Linked DNA regions of Homo sapiens. The protein of the gene in region 6 purifies or fractionates together with the protein of the main gene of each other region. This does not show direct contact. Each region holds a gene or a part of one and is shown on either strand. Other genes may lie near its edges.

The links.
Region 1: the proteins of KERA (region 6) and EFEMP1 purify together in Homo sapiens (co-immunoprecipitation; one large-scale study listed by IntAct). This does not show direct contact.
Region 2: the proteins of KERA (region 6) and ITIH2 purify together in Homo sapiens (affinity purification with mass spectrometry; one large-scale study listed by BioGRID and IntAct). This does not show direct contact.
Region 3: the proteins of KERA (region 6) and VWA8 purify together in Homo sapiens (affinity purification with mass spectrometry; 2 studies listed by BioGRID and IntAct, with this or other methods). This does not show direct contact.
Region 4: the proteins of KERA (region 6) and EID2 purify together in Homo sapiens (affinity purification with mass spectrometry; 2 studies listed by BioGRID and IntAct, with this or other methods). This does not show direct contact.
Region 5: the proteins of KERA (region 6) and NUDT12 purify together in Homo sapiens (affinity purification with mass spectrometry; 2 studies listed by BioGRID and IntAct, with this or other methods). This does not show direct contact.
Region 7: the proteins of KERA (region 6) and BLMH purify together in Homo sapiens (affinity purification with mass spectrometry; 2 studies listed by BioGRID and IntAct, with this or other methods). This does not show direct contact.

What each region holds. Positions count from the first base shown.
Region 1 is NC_000002.12:55,882,283-55,885,782, forward strand, and holds part of EFEMP1 (EGF-containing fibulin-like extracellular matrix protein 1 precursor), read right to left. Parts: intron 1-3,500. UniProt on the Homo sapiens protein: Binds EGFR, the EGF receptor, inducing EGFR autophosphorylation and the activation of downstream signaling pathways. May play a role in cell adhesion and migration. May function as a negative regulator of chondrocyte differentiation.
Region 2 is NC_000010.11:7,727,316-7,730,815, forward strand, and holds part of ITIH2 (inter-alpha-trypsin inhibitor heavy chain H2 precursor), read left to right. Parts: intron 1-387; coding exon 388-513; intron 514-2,636; coding exon 2,637-2,818; intron 2,819-3,500. UniProt on the Homo sapiens protein: May act as a carrier of hyaluronan in serum or as a binding protein between hyaluronan and other matrix protein, including those on cell surfaces in tissues to regulate the localization, synthesis and degradation of hyaluronan which are essential to cells undergoing biological processes.
Region 3 is NC_000013.11:41,685,110-41,688,609, forward strand, and holds part of VWA8 (von Willebrand factor A domain-containing protein 8 isoform a precursor), read right to left. Parts: intron 134-3,500; coding exon 1-133. UniProt on the Homo sapiens protein: Exhibits ATPase activity in vitro.
Region 4 is NC_000019.10:39,538,207-39,541,620, reverse strand, and holds EID2 (EP300-interacting inhibitor of differentiation 2), read left to right. Parts: upstream 1-1,459; 5' UTR 1,460-1,541; coding exon 1,542-2,252; 3' UTR 2,253-2,914; downstream 2,915-3,414.
Region 5 is NC_000005.10:103,550,573-103,552,789, forward strand, and holds part of NUDT12 (NAD-capped RNA hydrolase NUDT12), read right to left. Parts: intron 1,845-2,217; coding exon 1,645-1,844; intron 400-1,644; coding exon 289-399; 3' UTR 1-288. UniProt on the Homo sapiens protein: mRNA decapping enzyme that specifically removes the nicotinamide adenine dinucleotide (NAD) cap from a subset of mRNAs by hydrolyzing the diphosphate linkage to produce nicotinamide mononucleotide (NMN) and 5' monophosphate mRNA.
Region 6 is NC_000012.12:91,055,225-91,059,378, reverse strand, and holds the start of KERA (keratocan precursor), read left to right. Parts: upstream 1-1,354; 5' UTR 1,355-1,635; intron 1,636-3,089; 5' UTR 3,090-3,097; coding exon 3,098-3,983; intron 3,984-4,154. UniProt on the Homo sapiens protein: May be important in developing and maintaining corneal transparency and for the structure of the stromal matrix.
Region 7 is NC_000017.11:30,250,824-30,253,944, forward strand, and holds part of BLMH (bleomycin hydrolase), read right to left. Parts: intron 1,411-3,121; exon of another isoform or gene 1,251-1,410; intron 1-1,250. UniProt on the Homo sapiens protein: The normal physiological role of BLM hydrolase is unknown, but it catalyzes the inactivation of the antitumor drug BLM (a glycopeptide) by hydrolyzing the carboxamide bond of its B-aminoalaninamide moiety thus protecting normal and malignant cells from BLM toxicity.

The DNA.
Region 1 (3,500 bases), on a different chromosome or scaffold from region 6:
CTGTTTGTTTTTGCAAACAGCAGGGCAACATGTATGTATAAATCTTTCATTGCAAATTTCAGAATGCAAAGGATTCAATTTGATCATATTCCTCTAGCCTGTGTAGTTTAAAAATCCATATTTTCTCAAAGCAGTGTACTTCTTGGAATAATTTACTAAATGTGCCTTAATGAGTATGCAGGTTACAGTTCTAGAAAAGTAAAAAATGCTCAGTGATAGCATAATGAACTAGTTATAAGAAATTTCTTTCAGATCAAAAGGTGATATAAATTTGTGTGTGTACATTCATATTTACAGTAATTTATAAGTAAAATCTAATTTTGCCTTATCTGTATCACTTTTATATTCATTCGGCTCTCCTATATCATGAAGTTAAGTAGTACACAAAAAAGGATCATATAATTTCATCATTCTTCAACAACCACTCTAAGCTTCATTAACAATATCATAAAACTTGTGATTCCTAGATGACAATTTTTGTATAAAAACCAAAATACTACCCTGGGTCTACCACAGTGATGATTTAAGACCCCTGAGGCAGATTTCAGAGGTCTTAGATCATCACTGTGGCAGACTCATGGTAGTATGTTGGAAGAAAAAGTAGGGAAAGAATCAATAATAAAAAATTCACCCAATTTCTGTCTTCCCTCTAAGAATCTCTGAGAGTAGACCCTGAGGTTGGTTTGCCTTTCACTTTTCTGTATTTTCAAGGAGGACTGCGCATTTACACTATGCAGTATAATAATATATGAAGTTGAGATTGTAAAAGGGTTGTCCTCAGAAATCAGCTTCACTTAGCTGGGTGTGGAAATGATAAGAGAGATTCTTTCGATAAGAAAGAGGGAGGGGAGATGAAAAATACTTGAGTGATGTATGGCTATTTATTGGATAATAATCTATAAAGCATCCACTTACGTAATTCTTTGAACTTGGTTTTAAAGTTTTGGCTAAGGTTTTTGTTATTTTGTTTTGTTTTGAAATTTATTATAATTACTACTAGTATTATTTTCAAGTCAGTGATTACAAACTGTCCTTTTTAGGTACTATGCGATGGTGCAACAATCCTGCTTTGAAATTATCTGCTGTTTTTTGTGTCTTTTATTATTTTCTCAGATGCACTTGATGAAAACCTTTTTACTGGGGTTTCTTCAGAGCTTTATGACTCGTTAATGCAGAAATGACAGCAGAGTATCTATTGTTTTATGTCAAGAACATTTGCCAGCATTTGCAGTGATAACAGTCCTGAGAGATACGGCAATGTTAGATTCAGATGTGGCAAGTTTCCTCTGGCAGCAGATCAAGGCCCTGGGCTGGCTGCTGCATTTTCTAAGGGAGGCCTCAGCAGTGACTGAGGCTTTTCTTTTTGACATCTATCTGCAAACTGCCTCCACCCCGCTGCATTCCTACAACTGATGCCCTATGACTTCCTTCCTACTTTCTTGTTGCTCATTTCTTAGTGTCTGATAAATAGGCTAACATTTCCAGTGGAATTAATGTATCATTAAGTAGATTTTAAACACAAAAACCTGTGCTACTCCTTCTTAAGAATGAGGTCTGTTTACCTTCTGAGTGGGTTATTTAATAAAAATATTAGGTGAGTTAAATTAATAAAAACAAACAACAACAAAAAACAAATACCACTGTGCTCACTGCCACTACTTTCCTTCCCTTTCTCCACCAACACCCAAACAAAGCTGCAACAAGACTTGCCTCACCTAGGACTGACTGGTGATTACACATTTTACTTACTGGGACTCATAAAATTGTCAAAAAAGTGACCTCTGTGACCAGGAGGCAGCTACTAACTACATTTCCATTTATGGCTTCTCTGGCTGTGGTTTAGAATATTTATCCTCTCCTTTGCTGTTGGTGGTTTATCTAATGCTAAAGGCTATAAACAGACTGAATTTCTTTGACCTATTTTCAATTACGTTAATGTCAATTTATTAGTTTATTTAAATAACACAATATTATTTTGAAAATTATACTTTGAGATCCTGGAATTACTTATTTACACATCTATGCAAAGTCATATAAAATTATTATACATTGTTAAATTCCGTTATGTTTGGCTTTTCTACTTCTATGCATTTCCATTTGTCATAAATACCAGAAAGCTCACTATGATACAAAATTTACTAAAATGGACAATGATGTCAGAAACTCAAAGCAGAATACCCATCCCTGTGCAGATGCTCTGGAAAAGGTGGCTCTCCCAGGAGTGTTGATGACAGTCCACTGCCCTCTACTTGCTCCTGACTTCCCATAGTGCAAACACAGCCTTTTGTAGGTATCTCCATGGTGTGTAAGAAAAATCTGTTTCCTACATTTGTATGGGAGAATATCTGCATTAGCAAAAGCAATGCTTTATTTATAAGGGAAACTACTCAGGTCAGCCATGATTTTCCTGATAATCTAGGACAAATTACTATGGGGAGAAATTTTTTGTTGTTTTTGCATGATTATAATTTATCCTTGACAGTTAAGCTCACTTGGTTTTTCAGGCAGTCAGTTAATAAATTTCCTGGGACCTGGACCCAAGCTCTTTGGGTGGGGATGGGGGATCTATGTCTTATTTTCCCCCCTGTATTCCCAGTGCCTAGGATAGTGCATGAAACATGGTGGATTTTCAATAAATATTTGTGCAATAAATGGATAAATGAGTTATTACCATTTGCTGAGAATTGGTACCTAAAGTTTCAGGAAAAGTAGGATCAGTGTTTTACCTAATGGAGCTAAAAATGTATGAAGCAGAGTAACAAGGTATATCTGAGAAACACAGCAAAATCAGTAAGATGTTAGTAAAAGAAAAATGATGTTGAGCAAGTGAGTCCAGGAGTGCAGAGGCTATGAGGTATAAAGCAGATTCGCCAGAAGAGGTGGGTTCTCCACTGCATTTTGAAGAAGACGAGATACATGGGTTGCCAGGAAAAGGAAGCTGTTTCTAGGCAGAAAGCAGCTCACATTAGAAAATGCTGATAAGACAAAACTGGTTTCCATGAGAAGAATGGCAGACAGATGGCGTCAGCACAGCTGCCGGGGCTCTGTGTGAGGAGCCTGGTGCAGTGCCTGGTTGAAGAGGATCATGAAATGCTAGATCTGTCGTGAACAAAATTCAAGGCCTTAAAGGCAGGATTAGAGAGTCTGGATTGAACAACATAAGGAGTCTCTCTGAACTATGTAGACAGAGCCTAATGTTAACATTACCAAAGAACAAAATAATAGATTGTGCTTCCTAAAATACCATAACACATTTCGTCATTCTAATACATTAACAATAGCTAATGGCAATATTTGGTGATTCCCTCATTTTTCAAAAATGTGCCCACGTGCTCCCTCCTAGTGATTTATACTATTGTAGGTCCCTCTCTTGCTGACTTTGGCACCGTTAGTTGCTTTAAATAACACAGGCTAATCTTTGCTCAGCTCTTCTAGCCTCTTTATCACACCGACCCCCACGTCTAGGGAACCGCACATTTGATTTTCTCTCAAAGTTAATG
Region 2 (3,500 bases), on a different chromosome or scaffold from region 6:
GAACCGTTTTAATGTCTCTCAGAAAAAGGTTCAGTGACACTGGCCTTCTTTATTGCCTGCATAAAGCATAAAATGTTACTATCTTCAGAGTATCTTGGCAAGGCTGATTTGGATACTTTAATCTGGTGTTTAACAAGCTAACAGTCTGTGCTTTGAAAGGGCTAGTTCATCTCTAAGGGGATAGTTTATTTCAAAGTGAATATTTCACTGCACTGGGGGACCACCAGCTTGAGCACAGTTTGTGTCACTCAGAAAGCAATGAAATGATTTTGGCATGGAATAAGTGATGGATAAGTGATCAGCCGACATATGAGTCTGAATCCAGAATGGGATTTTCTGCGTGTGGCGAGAACGCATACCCAACGTTTCATTATGCTACTTCAACAGGCACAAACATCAACGAAGCACTCCTACGGGCAATCTTCATTTTGAATGAAGCCAATAACTTGGGACTGTTAGACCCCAACTCCGTCTCGCTGATCATTTTGGTTTCTGATGGAGATCCAACAGTGGGCAAGTGTCACTTCAACCTTCTCACGACAAACACTTTCACTGTTGTTTCTTGGAATGGTGGTTTGCCTAAAAGGGGAACTCTAATGGCATTTGCCTGAGTTTCTAGAACATTTTAAACCCATGCTTCCTAAAGGAGGTCTTCTGATCCTGCAGCCCTCACCCCTTAAGCTACTGCTCAGACACTTTCAGCAAGGGCGCTCTTGAATGCCTCAGTTCCACCTCCACAATATGCAGAAATCTGAGTCTGAATTTTAATAGTATGTTGTGAGGATTGCTGATGCATTCTAGGGAAATGCATCTATTTCCTCAACTTGAGGTATGTGAAGATGGTGTATGGGGGTGGTGAATGATGAGTATTGATCCCAGATCTCCCAGCAGTACCTTTGGAGGCCACAGTAGCATATTCCCTATTATTCTCCACACTTCTCCCGGTTGCACCTGGAGAAATGACTGCTCTCTGACACAACCTTGAAGTTAAACATTTTTCTTTCTACAAAATGGGCAGCAACATCTCCCTACTTCTATTATTTATTTTTATTTTTGTTACATTAGTTTATTTTATTTATTTTTGAAGACAGGGTCTTGCTCTGTCACCCAGGAGGGAGTGCAGTGGAGCACACACAGCTCACTGCAGCCTCAACCTCCCATGCTCAAGTGATCCTCCTACCTCAGCCTCCTGAGTAGCTGGGACTACAGGTGTGCACCACCACACTCAGCTAATTTCTTTTTTTTCTTTCTTTTTTTTTTTGGAGAGACGAAGTCTCACTATGTTGCTCAGGCTGATCTCAAAATCCTGGGCTCAAGCAGTCCTCCCACCTCGGACTCCCAAAATGTTGAGATTACAGGTGTGAGCCACTGTGCCAAGCTATCTTTGTTTTACTTGTGTCTTTATTCTGGCCACTGTAAGTAATAGCGAATGCCAGATTGTGTTGCCTGAGTGTGCTGTCGTACAGACTAGGACCGAGTCTAACACGTCCTGACACAGCCAAGCAGAATGAAAATGCACGAGGCAAAAACAATGGCAGTCAGAGCTTTAGAAAGCCAGAGAGCAACCATCTTATTAATAACGAGACTAGAATGAGCCAGTGTTATGTATTTGTTGTAGAGCCAATGTTTTCTCCCTCAGATCAGATTATTTTCAAAATTCAAGTTTTGAATGAAATCATAAGGTGGAAAAGGAAATATAGTTTAAAATATTAAACTTGCCAGGCATGGTGGCTCACACCTGTAATCCCAGCACTTTGGGAGGCTGAGGTGGGTGGATCACCTGAGGTCAGGAATTCAAGACCAGCCTGGCCAACATGGTGAAACCCCATCTCTACTAAAAATACAAAATTAGCCTGACAGGGCGGCGTGTGCCTGTAATCCCAGCTATTCGGGAGGCTGAGACAGGAGAATCCCTTGAACCCAGGAGGCGGAGGTTGCAGTGAGCTGAGATCGTGCCACTGCACTCCAGCCTGGGCAACAAAGTGAGACTCTGTCTCAAAAAAAAAAACAAAATTAAACCATAATTTGGTTTAATCATGGTTTCTCACTCCTGTTTCTCAACCATTCAGTTCCTGTCCCTGGAATCAGTCACTGGTTACCAGTTTCTTGTGTATCTTTCCACAAATAGTTTATGCATGCCTGTATACTATATATACATGTTTGCACACATGTATGTGTATATGCATACATACACATACATACATTTATACATGCATGCATGCAAATGCATCCTAGGTACCCTGATATTTACCTTGTTTTTTTTTTCTCCTCTAAACATGCCCTTGAGATTGTCTGGTATACATACATAAGGAGTTTCCATGTCCTTTTTAATAGCTGCATAGTATCTCACGGTTTAAATGTATCATCATCTAACCAAGCGCCCTCATTGGTGCATATTTATGTTGTTTCCAATATGTTGCTAATTCCCAAATAATGTTGCTATGCAACACAACCCACACTTCATTTCAACATGTACGAGTGCATCTCTAAGAAAAACTAGAAATTGAGTTACTGGGTCAAAAGGGAAATGCAGTTTTAATCTGGACACACTTTACTAAACTGCCCTCCCTGGATTTTCCAGAAAATTTATGATATTGCTTCTTCATTCCTTTCCTTTCGGACATCACCAACTTTAGGCGAACTAAAACTGTCAAAAATTCAGAAAAACGTTAAGGAGAACATCCAAGACAATATCTCCTTGTTCAGTTTGGGCATGGGATTTGATGTGGACTATGATTTTTTGAAGAGACTGTCCAATGAAAACCATGGAATTGCACAAAGGATTTATGGAAACCAGGACACGTCTTCCCAGCTTAAGGTAACATTTTCTTCTGTTCTTTTTTTATTCTTCACTGGAAATCATTTAACTACCCATATCTGATGCAGGTATGATGCATAACTGAACTTAACTCAAAATGGTCATGATCTCAGCCATATTTGGTTGCAAGGATCAGGGAAGTGCCCAGTTCCTTTCTCACATGTTTCCCCCCACCCTCATATTTCTGCAGTAACAGTGAGGTATGAGGCAGATGGGTGTTGGGAACAGCTGTCCTACCCCCTGAACAAAAAGGCCTTCTGAGCGTCATCAAAGCTCCTTGTAGCTCTCCTGCCCCACCAGCAATTGGTCTTCTTATCATCATGGCCAACCGTTTTCTCTTTAACGTGCATTGGCATCTTGGTATCAATTTTTCACAGTGTAAATTTTCTTAAGTATTAAGATACAGGCTGAGTGTGGTGGCTCATGCCTGTAATCCCAGCTCTTTGGAGGCCAAGGTGGGAGGATCACTCGAGCCCAGAGGTTTAAGGCCAGCTTGGGCAACATAGTGAGATCCATCTGTTCAACAGATAATTTTTTTAATTAAAATACATATATTGAAAAGACACAAACTACTTGTTTGTTTTGATTAAATAGATGAGAAAATGATGTAGGGAAAGAACATGTTTTTCCCTGCTCTTTGTCAGTACCAGGCATCGTATTTAAATTTGGGAACAAGTAAGAG
Region 3 (3,500 bases), on a different chromosome or scaffold from region 6:
TATCTAAAAGAGTCACACAATTGCTTTGTTTTGGAGTCCCCCTTTTCTTCTTTCCTCTATAGAATGATGTATCAGTGCCACTTCGTTTATGCAAAGATGATGGTCTCTTCCAAGAATAAACTTCACTGGGTGACTGAAAAAAAGAAAGAGATTAAAGTACTGAAGTACCATATACTACATTCACCACAACCTTAACAACGCAGCCCTTTAAGCAGATACTAGTGGGAAACTAATGTTTCACAGGTATAAGAAAATCAAATTATTGGCTGGGTACAGTGGCTCATGCCTGTAATCCCAGTACTTTGGGAGGCCAAGGTTGGTGGATCACTTGAGTTCAGGAGTTTGAGACTGGCCTGGGCAACATAGTGAAACCCCGTCCCTATAAAAAATACAAAAATCAGCCAGACATCGTGGCACATGTCTGTATTCCCAGCTACTGAGGAGATCTTGTCTTAAACAAACAAAAAATAAATAAAGTCATTTGGATGTGGTACAGGAAGGAGGTAGCTGCTTTGTCAATAATCATAATTTTCAGACAAGTGTAAAATATACAAGTTAAATTTTTTACCTTGAAATCAATTACAACTAAACAGAAGAAATATAGGAATTAGTTAAAAAATAAAGTAAACATCTATACATAATAGAACATAACTAGCATTTTTAAAGCCCTGGGAGGGCTTCAAAAGTGATTGGGCCCCTTCCCAGTCATTCTCTCTCTCCCCTAGATTTAACTCTTCTGGAATTTTGTGTTATTTTTCCCTTGCTTTACTTTAAATTTTTACCACGTATGTATTTATCCTTCCTAAGATCATAAAGATAATTTCTTATGCTTTTTCTAAAAGTTTTAAGGCTTTATCTTTCATAGTGAAGTCCTTAGCCTATCAGGAATTAATTTTTGTGAATGGTATGAAGTGGGGATCTGCATTCATCCTTTTCTCACATGTATAGTTTATTGTCCAAATACCACTAACTTTTGCCCATAGCAACAGTATCATAAAACACAGTTTATATGCAGGTATCTGTTTCTGGGCACTGCATTTTGTTCTATGGTGCATTTTTCTATTCCCAGGCCAATACATGGTCTTAGTTACTGAAGTTTTATAATTATCCTTGAAATTTAATAGGAAGAGTACTTCTGTCTGGTCCTTCTTCAGAGATGTTCTGGTTATTGTTTGCCCTTGCAATAATGAGTTGCATTAGCTCTCTGCGTCCTTATCAGTACTTGGTATTGTCAGTGTTTTTTTTATTTTAGCCATTCTAACGGGTAGGTACTAGTATCTCATCATGGTTTTAATTTGCATTTCTCTAATGACTAATGATGTCCAATAACTTTTCATGTACTTATTTGCCATCCCTCTATCCTCTTTGGTTAAGTGTTTGTTCAAGTCTTTTGCTCATTTTTTTTTTCACATTTACCTTTAATTTTACTTCTATATCTACCTAAATACATTGAAATCTATGAGTTCACAAAAATATATCCAATTCCAATCTAATAACTACATGGTTCATTCTAGTTTTCTTCCTTTCAGTATCTGTAATTCCCCTCTCCAACAGTTAAAAATTTGTTTTCATTATCCTTAATGTATTTTGTTACCCTTCATATATTTACTTTCTTGCTCAAGTCCACTGTATGTGACCCATCTCCCATCTCCACCACTAACCTTACTCCCTGGGCAGATGCTCCACTCTACCTGCTTGGGTTCTGACAGCCCATAGGGGCTGCACTCACACAGGGACACATACTTCACCTTACTTGGGCTCCTACATCCCATTCCAGGCTGCCCCTTCACAGGAATGCCATCTTCATCCTGTTTGGGCTTAACGTCCATCACTAGTGGTTACCTCTCCCCACCATAGATGTCCTTACCTTGCTTGGGCTCTGATCTTTGATAACTCACACTGGCCTACTATTTGCTCATTTGTAAAATTAGGCTATTTGCCTTCTGACTGTTAAGTTTTAAGAATCTTTATAGACTCTAGATACCAGTTTTTGTTGGAAATGTGGTTTGCAAATATTTTTTCCCAGCCTGTAGATTGTCTTTTCATTCTCTTAACAGTGTCTTTTAACAGAGCTCAAATTTTAAATTTTGATGCAGCACAATTTATCAATTTTCTCTTTATATATCATGTCTAAGACACTATTACCATGTTTAATAGAATGGTAACAGTGGGCAACCTTGTTTTATTTCTAATGAGAAAAGAAAAGAAATACTTTTGATGTTTCACCATTGAGGATGATATTTGCTACAGATTCTTATAGCTATTTGGTATTAGATTTTAAAAGTTATACAAGTAATAATTTAGATGCCACTGATAACTCTATGAAAAAGTTAATAAGAGGTAGCATACTCATTTGTCAATAGTTTCATACATAATCCAAAGAAGTTCACATAAAGCAAGAAGGCAGTGTGGTGTGGTAAAAGGATGTGTGTTAGAGGGCTGGCTAGTCACACTTGAGCTCAAATTCCATTGCTTATAATCTTTGTGGCCTAGGGGATATAAGCTCTGTCTGTTTCTATTTTTTTCATTTGTAAAACCTCATAGAATTGTTGTAAAAATTAACTATCATGTATGAAAGGGCTTAGAGCAGCACACTGCCTATTCTGTTGTGGCCTAAAAGTATTACTGTCATCTTAAAGGCTGCCTAGCTGACTCTAATCTTCTATTTAACAAATACTCATTAAATACCTCCTATGTGGTAGGTACCACACTAAGTAGCAGGGATATAGCTTTTAATTTAACAAGGTCACTAGTGTTACAGGCTATAAGAATTTCTACAAGGTTAATAGAAACAGTGCCTTAACTTAGCTTTTATTTTCTAACTTTTTATAATAACATTATACTTCTATATTGATTTCTTCAATCAGAAGAAGGTAATTAGAAGATCAATTTTTAAAATAGTTTTATCTCCAGAAAAAGTCCCAATTTTTTTTTTACAGCAGCAAACATTGTAGAAAGCATATAAAACACATCTCTTTCATATCAAGGCTGCTATAAACACTGTATTTCAATAACGTTTCATTTTGAATTACATGATAGCAGATGCTTTTAACTTGATAATTAGGAAAACATACATCAGAGTCCTAAGCCACATTATCCATTGAGTTTTAGATTTCAAATCTTATATCCTGAAGTACCCAGCATTCATTAACTATATTAAAATGTTGAGGCATACAAAATTGGAGTACCGTCAAGCAGAGCCCATATTTTTATCTTTAAATAATTCTATCATCCCATCTAAAAGCTACAAAGGAAATTATAAAAATTAAATGTTTAGTCAGAACACATGGAGCTACATCTAAGGTTGTTAGATGGCAACTTGGACTGAAATAACTTTTATAATTAATTTCCCCACATTTCCATCAGAGGAAGATGTCGCCCAGTTTCACCTACAGTCAATTCAAATAGCTTCTCCTTTATAGGTAATAGGAGATAACAGAAGGGCCCATCTAAGAGGAAAATCAATTGAGACAATTAGCCATTATACTATAACCTGGATG
Region 4 (3,414 bases), on a different chromosome or scaffold from region 6:
CACTTTGGGAGGCTGAGACAGGCGGGTCGTTTGAGCCCAGGACTTTGAGACCAGCCTGGGCAACATAAGGAGACCCTGTCTCTACAAAAAAATTAAAAATTAACTGGGTGTGGTGGTGTACACCTGTAGTCCCAGGTACTCAGGAGACTGAAGTGGGAGGATTATTTGAGCTCGGAAGGTTGAGGCCACGTTGAGCTGTGATTGTGCCACTGCACTCCAGTCTGGGTAACAGAATGAGATGAAAGAAAGAAGGAATGAAGGAAGGAAGGAAGGAAGGGAGTGAGGGAGGGAGGGAGGAAGAGAAAATGTGAATGGATGAATCTCATAAAAATAATGCACAAAAAAACAGATACAAGTGTGTATGTGAGAAAACATTTTAAATGGTCCATTTCTGAGGCATGATAAATCTAAGTACTGGCAGCCAGCCTGCAAATATAACAAACTGCAGGGCTCATCCACCTAGAAGGTCACAATAAGGGAACAGAATGTAGAGGCGGGGTCAGCCCATAAAAGGGAAGAAAGTGGCCGGCGCAGTGGCTCACGCCTGTAATCCCAGCACTTTGGGAGGCCGAGGCAGGCGGATCACGAGGTCAAGAGATCGAGACCATCCTGGCCAACATGGTGAAACCTCGTCTCTACTAAAAATACAAAAATTACGCAGGTGAGTGTGTTTCTCACATAGATAAAGTTCAGAATACAAACCAAACTAAACTACAGCATTAGGAATGCACCCTTAGGTGGTAAAATGAAAAGAAAAACAAGAAAGTGATTACCATAAGTATCAGCATAGTTGTTACTTCTGCGTAGAAAGGAAAGGATAGTGATAAGAAGAAGAGGAAGGGTTCTGGGATGCTGGAAATATTCCACTTCTTGGACTGTGTGGTAGTTAAACGGATGTTCACTTTGTGATAAATCATTCAGCTGTATATTTATGTTTTGTTTACTTTTCTGCATGTTATATTGCACAAATAAGATTCGAAAAACAAATGTCCAAGGTAGTCAATGCAATGTTAAAGATAACACGAAAAGACTGTAATTACAAAGCTTTGGTAGCTAGGACGATCCGTATGGATGAAGACAGGCAAAGGAATGAATGAAAAACAATTTAAAAATCCAGAAAAGACCATGAATCTAAAATATCTTGATATATAATAGAGGTGGCACATAATCACTGGAGAACAAAGAGAAACACCCTAGGACAGAACCTTGAGAACGCCTACAAGAAGCGATCTTGTAAGCGTTCCTCATAAACATCAAACTGGTTGAAATGTCCCCCGCCCTTCGTCGTTGGGATGTTTCAGATGCGTTGGCGCTTCCCGGCCTCGAGGGGGCATCTGGAGAACGGCGGGCGCCGGGAAAGTACGCATGCGCACTGCTCCCAGGGTTTGCGGTAAGAATCTATGCTCTCGCGCCCGGTTACGCACACTGCATTTACAGCGCGCATAGCGCCCACGCACGCGCACTGGGGTGTCCGCCGGGCATCGCTCTGTCCAGTTATTCCAGTTTCTCTGGGAGCAGCCGAGTTGACCCCACGGTCTGAGATGTCCAAGCTGCCCGCAGACAGCAGTGTCCCGCAGACAGGCGCGGCGAATGGTGACAGAGACGTCCCGCAGGCGGAGGTAGGCCGCGGGAGGCGGGAGCCGGCCCCGGCACAGCCTGAGGAGGCCGGGGAAGGCGCGATGGCGGCGGCCAGGGGAGGCCCGGTGCCGGCGGCCAGGGAAGGTCGGATGGCGGCGGCCAGGGCAGCCCCGGCGGCGGCAGCCAGGGGAGCCCCGGTGGCAGCGGCGGCGTTGGCCAGGGCAGCCGCGGCGGGCAGGGAAAGCCCGGCGGCGGCGGCGGCCAGGGAAGCCCGGATGGCGGAGGTCGCCCGCTTGCTGGGGGAGCCAGTGGACGAAGAGGGTCCCGAGGGCAGGCCCAGGTCCAGACACGGGAACGGAGGCCTGGCTGCGTTGCCCTATCTCCGTCTCCGCCACCCACTTAGCGTTTTAGGCATCAATTACCAGCAGTTTCTCCGCCACTATCTGGAAAATTACCCGATTGCTCCCGGCAGAATACAAGAGCTTGAAGAACGCCGCAGGCGATTCGTGGAAGCCTGCAGAGCAAGGGAAGCAGCGTTTGATGCCGAATATCAGCGAAATCCTCACAGGGTGGACCTCGATATTTTAACCTTTACGATAGCTCTGACTGCCTCTGAAGTTATCAACCCTCTGATAGAAGAACTTGGTTGCGATAAGTTTATCAATAGAGAATAGTTATGTGGTGACACTACTTCAAGAGAACCTCTGCATTCCAGTCATACCAATCCTGCAACTTGATTTTCAGAAGTCAAGAGTATATCGCGATAAGACAGTGCACAGGTGGAGGGGAAAAAAAGGGGGAGGGGGAAGCTTATCTTGAAAAAGCATCACAGAAGTAGAAAAAAATGTCGAAAGCATTATAACTGTAACGTTCTTTGAGTTTGTGATTGATCCACATTTTTCCCCCTGCATTATGGAAAATGTCTCTCAGCATTGCTTTATTACAAAGTAAAGGATGGTTTTATAAAATTGAGACTGATGAAACATCAATACTAGAGCCCATGAGGATGAAAGAAATTATCAAATAGTGCTGAACAGAATAAGATGTTAACGCTGAGTTATTAGGACTGGAAGGCTATGAAAAGAACTTGAAATTGTCGGAATATGTGCTCTCTTCATGTCATATTCAATAGAAGTTTCTAGTTTAAGATTGATTTTGTGTTTTCTTAGGCATTTCAAGTGACAAGCAAAGTAAATGTATATATTATGTGATAAATCATGTTTTCAAGAACGTCAAATTTCTGGACTTTTTTCTTTCAATTTTTAATTTTTAAAGTTTTTTTGGTATTAAAAAATCTATTCACAAGCCAAAAAATATATAAAATATACAGCGAAAAGCCTTCCATTCTTGTTTTCCTCCATCCAGTACCAACGATGACCTCTAATAGCCACAGTTTCCTTTCCGTCCTTCTAGTTTCCTTACGTGTACACAGGCACATATAAATCTGGGTTTACTTGTTTTATTTCTTCACAGAAGTCGGCATATTATATTTACTGGTTTATACATTGCTTTCTCATTAAGAACATATGTTGACCCTTCCAAACCACTGTATTTCCTCATTATTTTTTAAAGTGGCATTTTATTCCATTCTGAGGTTATGTCCAAATTTACTTAACCAGGGATATATTGACGGACATTTAGGTTGTTTCCCATCTCTTTCTTTGGGCAGAATAAAAAATTGCTAGAGTAGTTCATCTTGTACAATTGCTAGAGTAGTTCATCTTGTATATCATGTGGCATGTGCACAAATATAGTATTGCTTCAATTCAAAATTCACTTCATATTTGAACATCTCTGAAATGTGGGTGCATCTTATATTTGATGCTGTAATAGATC
Region 5 (2,217 bases), on a different chromosome or scaffold from region 6:
TTAGAAAAATGGTTTTGTGAGATAAAACTGTGAAGGAAGAAAAGAAACCAAGAGAGAAAAAGTTCAGAGAAGACTGACCCAAATTTAACATAATCTGAGGCAATATTGTAAAAATGTGTAAAAATATGAATTTGTGATTAAGACAGAACACTTTGAAAATATTTCGAAAACCCAACATCGTATTTTGTGTTGTGACACTCTCAAGAGTACTGAATAATCTCTAATATCACTTGAGGAATGAGTGTTATTAGAAATTATTAAATAATACTCAAAGCTTAGTTCTTAGATTTAGAGATTAGGATTTATTCTAATCCAGTGTTTGATTAATTGATGTGCAATAGCTCGGCTTGGTGGCACAAAGAATGCCTGCTGCTTCCCTTTGGTCAGAACATCCAGGACCTAAAACACACCATAATAGAATGCATTAGGATTTCAAAGCTGTCATATTTAAATACTATTCCCATGTTTACATAATTCAATTAAAATGTGATGAGTTTTACAGTGAATAACAACAGTAGAAAGTGACAACATCCATATTTACATGCAAAGTTTTTTTTTTTTTGGAAACAAGGTCTTGCACTCTGCCACCCAGACTGGAGTTGCAGTGGTGGGATCATGGCTCATTGCAGCTTTGACTTCCTGGGCTCAGGCGATCCTCCTGCCACAGCCTCCCAAGTAGCTGGTACCATAGGTGCACCTGGCTAACTTTTTAAAAATTATCTGTAGAGACAGGGTCTCCCTATGTTGCCCAGGCTAGTCTCAAACTCCTGGGCTCAATCAAGCTTCCTGCCTTGGCCTTCCAAAGTTCTGGGATTACAGGTATAAGCCACCACGCCCCGCCTCAACATGCAAAATTTAGGACAGCATTTTTAATTGCTTCACTGAGTAAGTGATTCAGTTTCTAAAATGTTCCAGAAAGACACATTCCCTTATGAAAATGACATCACGAAAAAGCAAAATGTACGCTCCACACTTAATTTCTAAGCAAAGCCAACTTTTGAAACAGATTCTTTTTTATAAAATTCATAAGCAATAATCTAATTTCCATCTTTTAGGATTAAGCATAGAATAAAATTAATTTTATGCAGGCAAAGTCAGAAAGAATTTCAGGTCAGATGAGTAATTTATCTTTTAATATATTATTTAGGAATGACATTTTAGAAAGTTATTTTAAGTGTATGTTTATTATACAGTTATGTCATTCTTGTCCTTAAGTACATTTTAAAATGAATAAAAACTTTCTGAAAATTTTAAGCACTTACTGATGTTTTTTGAGAGCTACTTGTTTTAATGTTATAAACTAAAATATAAAATGTATAAGAATATTCCTGTTTCTCATCTATGAATTAATGTTTTTCTAAACCCACTGATAGGTATTATTATTTATGTGAAGGAATGGAATCTGAAACTCGAAATGGTACAGAATCATCTCTACTAGAAAAATCTCATAGAATAAGTTAATATAGATCACATTAGTGAAACATACTCCTCCTGTATGGAATTACTAATTACCATGTAATCCATGCATAATGAGAGGGCCAAAGGCATCATTCAACTTGCTGAAAATATGCATCCTTGCTCTGTGACCAAACCAATACAGTCAGGGAACAATCAATAGAAGAAGGAAATTAAATTGAACTTTACCTGTTCTCTAGTGAACCAGCGGGCATCCTCTATTTCATTCTTGTCAACTTTAATTTCTGTAGACACTGCTAGAGCTAAGCAACCAATCATTAAGGAGGAAGGCATTGGCCATGGTTGACAAGCAACATACTGAACATGGCCAACTTTGACTCCACTTTCCTCTTCTACTTCTCTCCTAACAGCATCTTCTATTGTCTCTCCTAATGAAATGGAGCAAAAGAACAAGTTGCTGATGAACATGCCCGGGACACTTTGTGTCCTGAATGGTTCAAACATCTGGAAATCACTTTGGACAGAAACCCAATGCAAATAATCAGAAAGCAGAAGCCTAAAACTAGACTGTAATTGAAGAAAACAATTTTTTTAAAGTACATGACCACATATAGAATATCAAAATGCCAACAATAAACTTTTCGTTTTTTTAAGGTACAAATTTGTCAGTTACATTTTAAAAATAATGATACCATCTAAAAATATCCAATACCTAATACTGGTTAAACACTATGCAAACACTTTATATCTTATCTCATGTATATATTGTCCACGAAATAGTTATAAATTACATGATTTTTA
Region 6 (4,154 bases):
ATCAACAGTAAGACAATAGCTGGAAGAGGGCCATGCAGATTTGAAGATCATCTGTTGTTTAAATCCTGAGGGTTTAGGAAAAGGAGAGGGAGAAATGCAACAGAGAGAGGAGACAATTGTTGTGAGAAAGCAAGTAACACTTGGTTGTCTTCTTAAAATGTGATGTGAGTACACCTACATACCTATAGGACTAGTAAAAAATCATGTCAAAATAGGATCTCAATCTATAAAAACCCTTTAATATAAATGCATTTTCCAGTTGAGAGTGTAGGGCTAATTCCAAATAAGGCTATTATTTCTGTAATTGTTTATAACAAACTAGACCTAACTCTGTGAAGCAATCCATTACTATTTTGTAGATGACAAAACTGAACTTTAATTTACCCTCCTATGGTTAGGAGAGAGGAAAGAGGTGGTTCACAAAAGGTCCTCTGAATCCAATGCTTAATCCTCTTCACGGTGCTCTTTGACAATACTCATGTGAGCTGTTAAATGAGTCATATAACATTCACTGAAGCTAGAATAAGAGAGATTTTGAAAAACAAAACAACAATCAATCCACATAATAACACCTAAATGAAATATTTTTTGTTTGCATCTTTTCTCAAGAAGCATAATTTTTTTTCATCAAGTATCAGAAGTGGAGGACACACTACTTTAGATATGTGTTAAAGAAAAAAGTAGCAGTGTAACAGAATGTCTCATAAGGGACTATATGCAAAACATGTGTTATATTATAATGAATAAAAAATTATCCCACCTTAGCAGGTACTTGGAATAAATTGTTAAAAGAAATATAATAGGAAATAGGGATACAAAAATTATTTCTCTGAAAAAAAGCATAATACCAAGATTAGCACCAAAATCAGGTAGTGCTTTCCAGATATCACATTTACATTTTTTCAAATACATATATTTATTTATTTTTCCCTTAGTCAAACACATTACAGCATCTATTTTATATCAGGAACAGATAAAATATGTCCATATAAACAGAAGACATTGGCTTTTAATTATTTGTATTCAATTTTTAAGAAATGATCATCTAGGGAAAATGTTTTAAAATCTTTTAAAATATCTTTTTGTTATACTTTAAAACTGCCTTCAGCTGCCTATTGGTAAATAAGGTCTGGATATCAGTACATGACAACATATACTAATGAATTGAACTGTGAATTAGGAATGAAAATTGCCTAGAAATTTTTTTATGAGTTATTAGGATTAAAGTAAGAATTTCCTTTGCTGGGCTGTGTAGGCACTAAGATTCCGTGGTTGTTGGAGGGGTTAAATTTGGATCTACTAGTGCATATATTTTACCGAGGATTCATAAAAACACGACAGTGGAGCCTGGGTCAATCCATTACCATGTACAAGCAGTGACCAATAGAAAAGGAAGAAGAAGATCCAAGAAGGCTGAGGTAAGCAGTCTTCTGAAGCCCTGTCAAAGTGGAAACAATAGATCAAAGGTGTTCATGGTGACTGGGACGAGTAGGTTTCACTGTTTCTCATAGACGACTTGACAGCTTAAAGTAAAAACAAATTATTTTCGTCAAAGTTTTTTTTTTTCTCTTAACTGATTTTTAGCAAACCTCAGACTGAGACACAGGACTCAACGGTGTATTCCTGGAAGGCAAGGTAAACTATTTTGCACTTTTAAAAACTCTTAAAGTTAAGCATGCAAAGTACTTATTCAACAGACGCAGGGTTACAACTTCAATAACTAAACCAAAACCCTATTCTGAAAAAGAAAAAAAAAAATGATGTTTCTTTGTTGGAACATGGCCAGAGCAGCGTTCTGCAATCCTAGAAAATTTGACAGCTTGCAGAAGCAGTTCTGCACTTGTTTTCTGCAATTTAATGGCAAAATTGAATGATCAGCATTTCATAAATGAAGTTGACTTTATCTTTTCCTAAGGAATCAGTAAAATTTATTTCATCCTATTATCAATCAGTTCAATAAATGTACATTGGTCAGAATGTTACTGATATATATATATATATATAAATATATATGTAACATATGTATGCTATAAATTATTAAAATATATATGTATATTTCCTGTTAAAATAATTATTTGTACCAATAATCTTTGATGATCAGTGGGGAGGGTTTATGTGTTTTAAATGTATCAAATATTAGTAAACGCTAACCTACTTTCCATTATCCACACTGATAATATGAATATAAAGAAATTCTCCACCCGTATCCTAAATATGTTTTTGGTTGTTTTTGTTTCTTATCAACCATAATAATGGCATAGTTGAATACAATACTCATGTACTTGTGCTATACATCACAATGTATTCAACTCTATATAATAAACTCTATCTCTATATATACATATATATACATATATAGAGACAGAATATACATATTCTCTGAGAGAGAGAGAGAGAGAGAAAGGGAGAGAGAGAGAGAATTGATAATTCAATAGCTTGGCTGAACAACTTAATTGTGTGCTTAAAATTATAGACATCTTCCCCCACCCTCAAAAAACTTACTTGAGAGGTTGAGCTAGAGAATAACAGATTAATTACATTTTTATTCAGATCCTAGAACCTTCCTTCACCATAAAGTGCTAAAATGTTCTTTGATCCCTTCATTCCTTTGGTTCAAGGGCCAAAAGGCCTAGGAAATCTCATCCAGATGTTCTGCTCATTTAAGAGTAAAAGTAAAAGCATATGCTTTCCTCTCAGGAACAACACAGATTCCCAGTTTGAGTTTTTAAAAGATCACTTTTTTGTACTCTCATATTCAACTACTGGTTTCAGTTCAGTTCTTTAAATTAAATAGCTTGAAATGGAAAAACACTTAGAGCTGCTAAAATTTTCTTTCCATTTCTCGGCTTTTATTGTGTTTGGGTTACAACCAGAAAGCTACAAGTCGGTGAATTATTCTCAATGTTTGCAAAATGCTTTGCATATGGTGCCTACTAACTAATGTATATTAATTAAGATCTGTGTATGAAATGTTGACATATTTTCACCTCTTCCCTGAAGAAGCAATGTTTACTGATCATTTTGATGTATAAAATTATCTAAAGGTCAAGATCTTCAAATATCTAACAGTTGTGTTCCTTTTTCTGTAGGTGCTATAATGGCAGGCACAATCTGTTTCATCATGTGGGTGTTATTCATAACAGACACTGTGTGGTCTAGAAGTGTGAGGCAGGTCTATGAAGTACATGATTCAGATGATTGGACTATTCATGACTTCGAGTGTCCCATGGAATGTTTCTGCCCACCCAGTTTTCCTACTGCTTTATATTGTGAAAATAGAGGTCTCAAAGAAATTCCTGCTATTCCTTCAAGAATTTGGTATCTTTATCTTCAAAACAACCTGATAGAAACCATTCCTGAAAAGCCATTTGAGAATGCCACCCAGCTAAGATGGATAAATCTAAACAAGAACAAAATAACCAACTACGGAATTGAAAAAGGAGCCCTAAGCCAGCTGAAGAAGTTGCTCTTCTTATTTCTGGAAGATAATGAGCTAGAGGAGGTACCTTCTCCATTGCCAAGAAGTTTAGAACAATTACAATTAGCTAGAAATAAGGTGTCCAGAATTCCTCAAGGGACCTTTAGCAATCTGGAGAACCTGACCCTTCTTGACCTACAGAACAACAAATTAGTGGACAATGCCTTTCAAAGAGACACTTTTAAAGGACTCAAGAATCTCATGCAGCTAAACATGGCCAAGAATGCCCTGAGGAATATGCCTCCAAGATTACCAGCCAATACAATGCAGTTGTTTTTAGACAACAATTCCATTGAAGGAATACCAGAAAATTATTTTAATGTGATTCCTAAAGTGGCCTTTTTGAGACTAAATCACAACAAACTGTCAGATGAGGGTCTCCCATCAAGAGGATTTGATGTATCATCAATTCTAGATCTTCAACTGTCGCACAATCAACTCACAAAGGTTCCCCGAATCAGTGCTCATCTGCAGCACCTTCACCTTGATCATAACAAAATTAAAAGTAAGTAACCTGCAGAGTATGTCTTTGACTAAAGGGCTCATGGTCATTAAATGTATCTTTATTTTCATTAAGAAGAGCAAATGTGTTGCCCCCTCCCCCGCTAATGTTCCTTTAGATTTTTAGTGTGTTTTCAATTTTCAGTATTAAATTTTGTCTATACGCAGACAGTCT
Region 7 (3,121 bases), on a different chromosome or scaffold from region 6:
AACCAACCTAAGTGCCCATCAACCAACGAGTGGATAAAGAAAATGTGATATTTATACATCATGGAATATTATACTCGGCCATAAAAAGGAAAAAAATAATGTATTTTGTAGCAACTTCGATGGAGCTGGAGGCCATGATTCTAAATGAAGTAACTCAGGAATGGAAAACCAAATATCATATGTTCTCACTTATATAAGTTGGAGCTAAACTATGAGGATGCAAAGGCATAAGAATGATATAATGGACTTTGGGCACTCAGGATGGAAGAGTGGGAGGGGTGGAGGGATAAAACAAAGACAACATACCAGTGTACACTGCTTAGGTGCTGGGTGCACCAAAGTCCCAGAAATCACCACTAAAGAACTTATCCATGTAACCAAAACCCACCTGTTCCCCAAAAACTACTGAAAGTTAAAAAAACAAAAACAAACAAATCTGTTCTTTCAGGAACAGATCTCCAAAAAACTTAAATGGGAAAAAAATGCTTTACCCGAGCCATTGCTAATAAGAAGAGCAAAATTAAAGTGAGAGACTGAAGTCCGTATATTTAAAACAAGAATGGGCTGCTGGGCCACAGACAGAACACAGAGCAAACGATGTGTACTGAATCAAGAGAAAGGCAGGCACACACATCCAAGGGCTCCCGGACTAGCAATGGCCATCAGCACCACGACTGTCATCTGACCGTATCTGCTACTTGTTTTATAGTAAACACTGGAGCCATTTTTCTCTGAAAGTTTGTATAAACCTAGGCCTGTGCTATACCATTTCCCACTACACAGGACCAAGAGAACGGAGAAGTAGGTGTTTCTAGCAAGAGGGTCCCCTAGTGAGCAGTTCTCATAAACCTAGGCCTGTGCTATACCATTTCCCACTACACAGGACCAAGAGAACGGAGAAGTAGGTGTTTCTAGCAAGAGGGTCCCCTAGTGAGCAGTTCTCAAGCCTCTTGGCCTCAAGCCCTGCCCTTTACATTCTTAAAATTATTAGGGACCGAAAACATTCTTTATGTGGACTAATATCTATCATTATTTACTATATCAGAAACTAAAACAGAAAGTTAAAAATATTAATTCATTTAAAAATAAGTATGAAAAATGAATATAAACAATATATTTTGAGGAAAAAAATTATATTATGTAAAAAAATATTTTTAGTTAAAAAAGTGGCATTGTTTTACATTTTAATGTCTAGATTTGCAGAAGACAGCTGAATTCCTGTATCTGCATCTGTGTTTAATCTGTTGCAGTATGTTGTTCTGCTTGAAGCAGATGAAGGAAATCCAGCCTCACACAGATATGTTGCTCAAGGGCAGACCCTGCACACTCCCTGAAAGGGCCCTAGGGAACCAAAGATCACACTTTGAGAACTGCTGCTCTTGAGGCAAGACTGGATTAAATTTAAAGGCAACAATACTGGTAAGTCTAATTTTGTATGCTAAAAGGTGTGACAAAGGGCATTATTTAACCTGAAAACACAATTGATTTGGTGAAGTCATCTATGCCCAATCCTGTTTTTCACCCGACAGAAGTCAAAGACAGATCATCCTGACGTGGCATAGCATACGTTTACCCTCAAAAACACTGTGGAGGCCAGGTGCAGTGGCTCACACCTATAATTTCAGCACTTTAGGAGGCCGAGGCAGGTGGATTGCTTGAGCCCAGTTGTTCAAGACCAGCCTGGGCAACATGGCGAAACCCCATCCTCACAAAAAAAAAAAAAAAAAAAAAAAAAATTAGCTGGTGTGGTGGCCTGAGCCTGTGGTTTCAGTGAGCCAAGATCACACCACTGCACTCTAGCCTAAACAGAGTGAGACCCTGTCTTGGGGGTGGGAATGGTAGGGGTTGGGAGTGCTCTGTAAAAGTGTTCAAGTGCTCCGACCAAGGCAGGTAAAGGAATGCACTCTTGTCTCCTGATAAGCTGGCCTCCTGGATCCAGGGCCCCTACTTTCAATAGACGAGAGACGGAAGGACAGTACAGGCCCACTCTGTAGCTACTTCTGGCTTGTCTTGATTATATATTCCAAACTTCCTGGCTTTGTTGGTGTCAGGACCTGGCCCTTAATTAACATCACCCACACCAGTGCCACCAGGTTCTAGCAACAAAAGTTCTGTCCGCTCAAAGGTCAACCAGTGCGTATTATTTAAAACTAAAATACTGCATCCTAAGTGAGTGCTTCCTGAAAAACTAAGCATCTGCCTTCCCAAAAAGGAGCTTTCAGCAAGCAGGAGAGCAGACTAGGGAACACCACACTGTTTGAGACATTAGTCGTCCCTTCCCTCACCACAATGCAGGCTGAATAAATCACTGCAGTGGCCCTGGGCAGTTAGGCAGGTGAAGGATAGAAGCAGATTCATGTAATAAAATTCTGTGTCCTTTCAACAATACTATCACCATACAATCAAATGAATCTTCAAAGAATGCTCCCAGAAGATGGACAATAAGTACATCTACACTATCTTGTTCCAAAAGCATATCAGATTAAGTCCTCACAAATTAAAATTCCTATCAATTGTAACCCACCCTTTCAATGTCCCTGCCAAGAGGACCCGCCTTGATTAGTCTCTCTCTTCAGGATATGAGTTCTTTGGGGACCCACAAAAACCTCACAGTCTAGGTAGCTGCCAAGTAATTGCGCCCTATGTAGATAATGAACTTGTGGCTGCCGTAACTGTTGACACTGTGTGTCTTGGAGTTTGACTGAGAAGATTAGGATCAGTGTGTCTGAAACCTGTGTAGGAAGCAGCAAAGCACCGGCTCAGGCAGGATTCGGCTGGCCCTTTTGACTTGCGGGAAGGTGCAGCTCCTAACCCTTAGACACACTGGCCGTGAGACACAAGCATTCCAAGGAAAAAAGAAAAGAAAACAAAATAAAAACCTGCTCCAGGGATCCCAAGGTTACACTGAGTGAAACACAGACAAATAGATAAAGTCAGCTTTAGGAACTAAGGTGAAATTAAATTTTGTTTAAACTTTAATGTCTTGTTTACATGCGATGAGAAAGAAAGAAAAGTGAACAGTCCTCAAAACAAAACACCTCAAACCAACCAACCAACCAAAAAACACTGGCAACGTTTCTGTATTTTGTAACAGAAAGGGTAGGGTCAGTCTGTAAAGGGA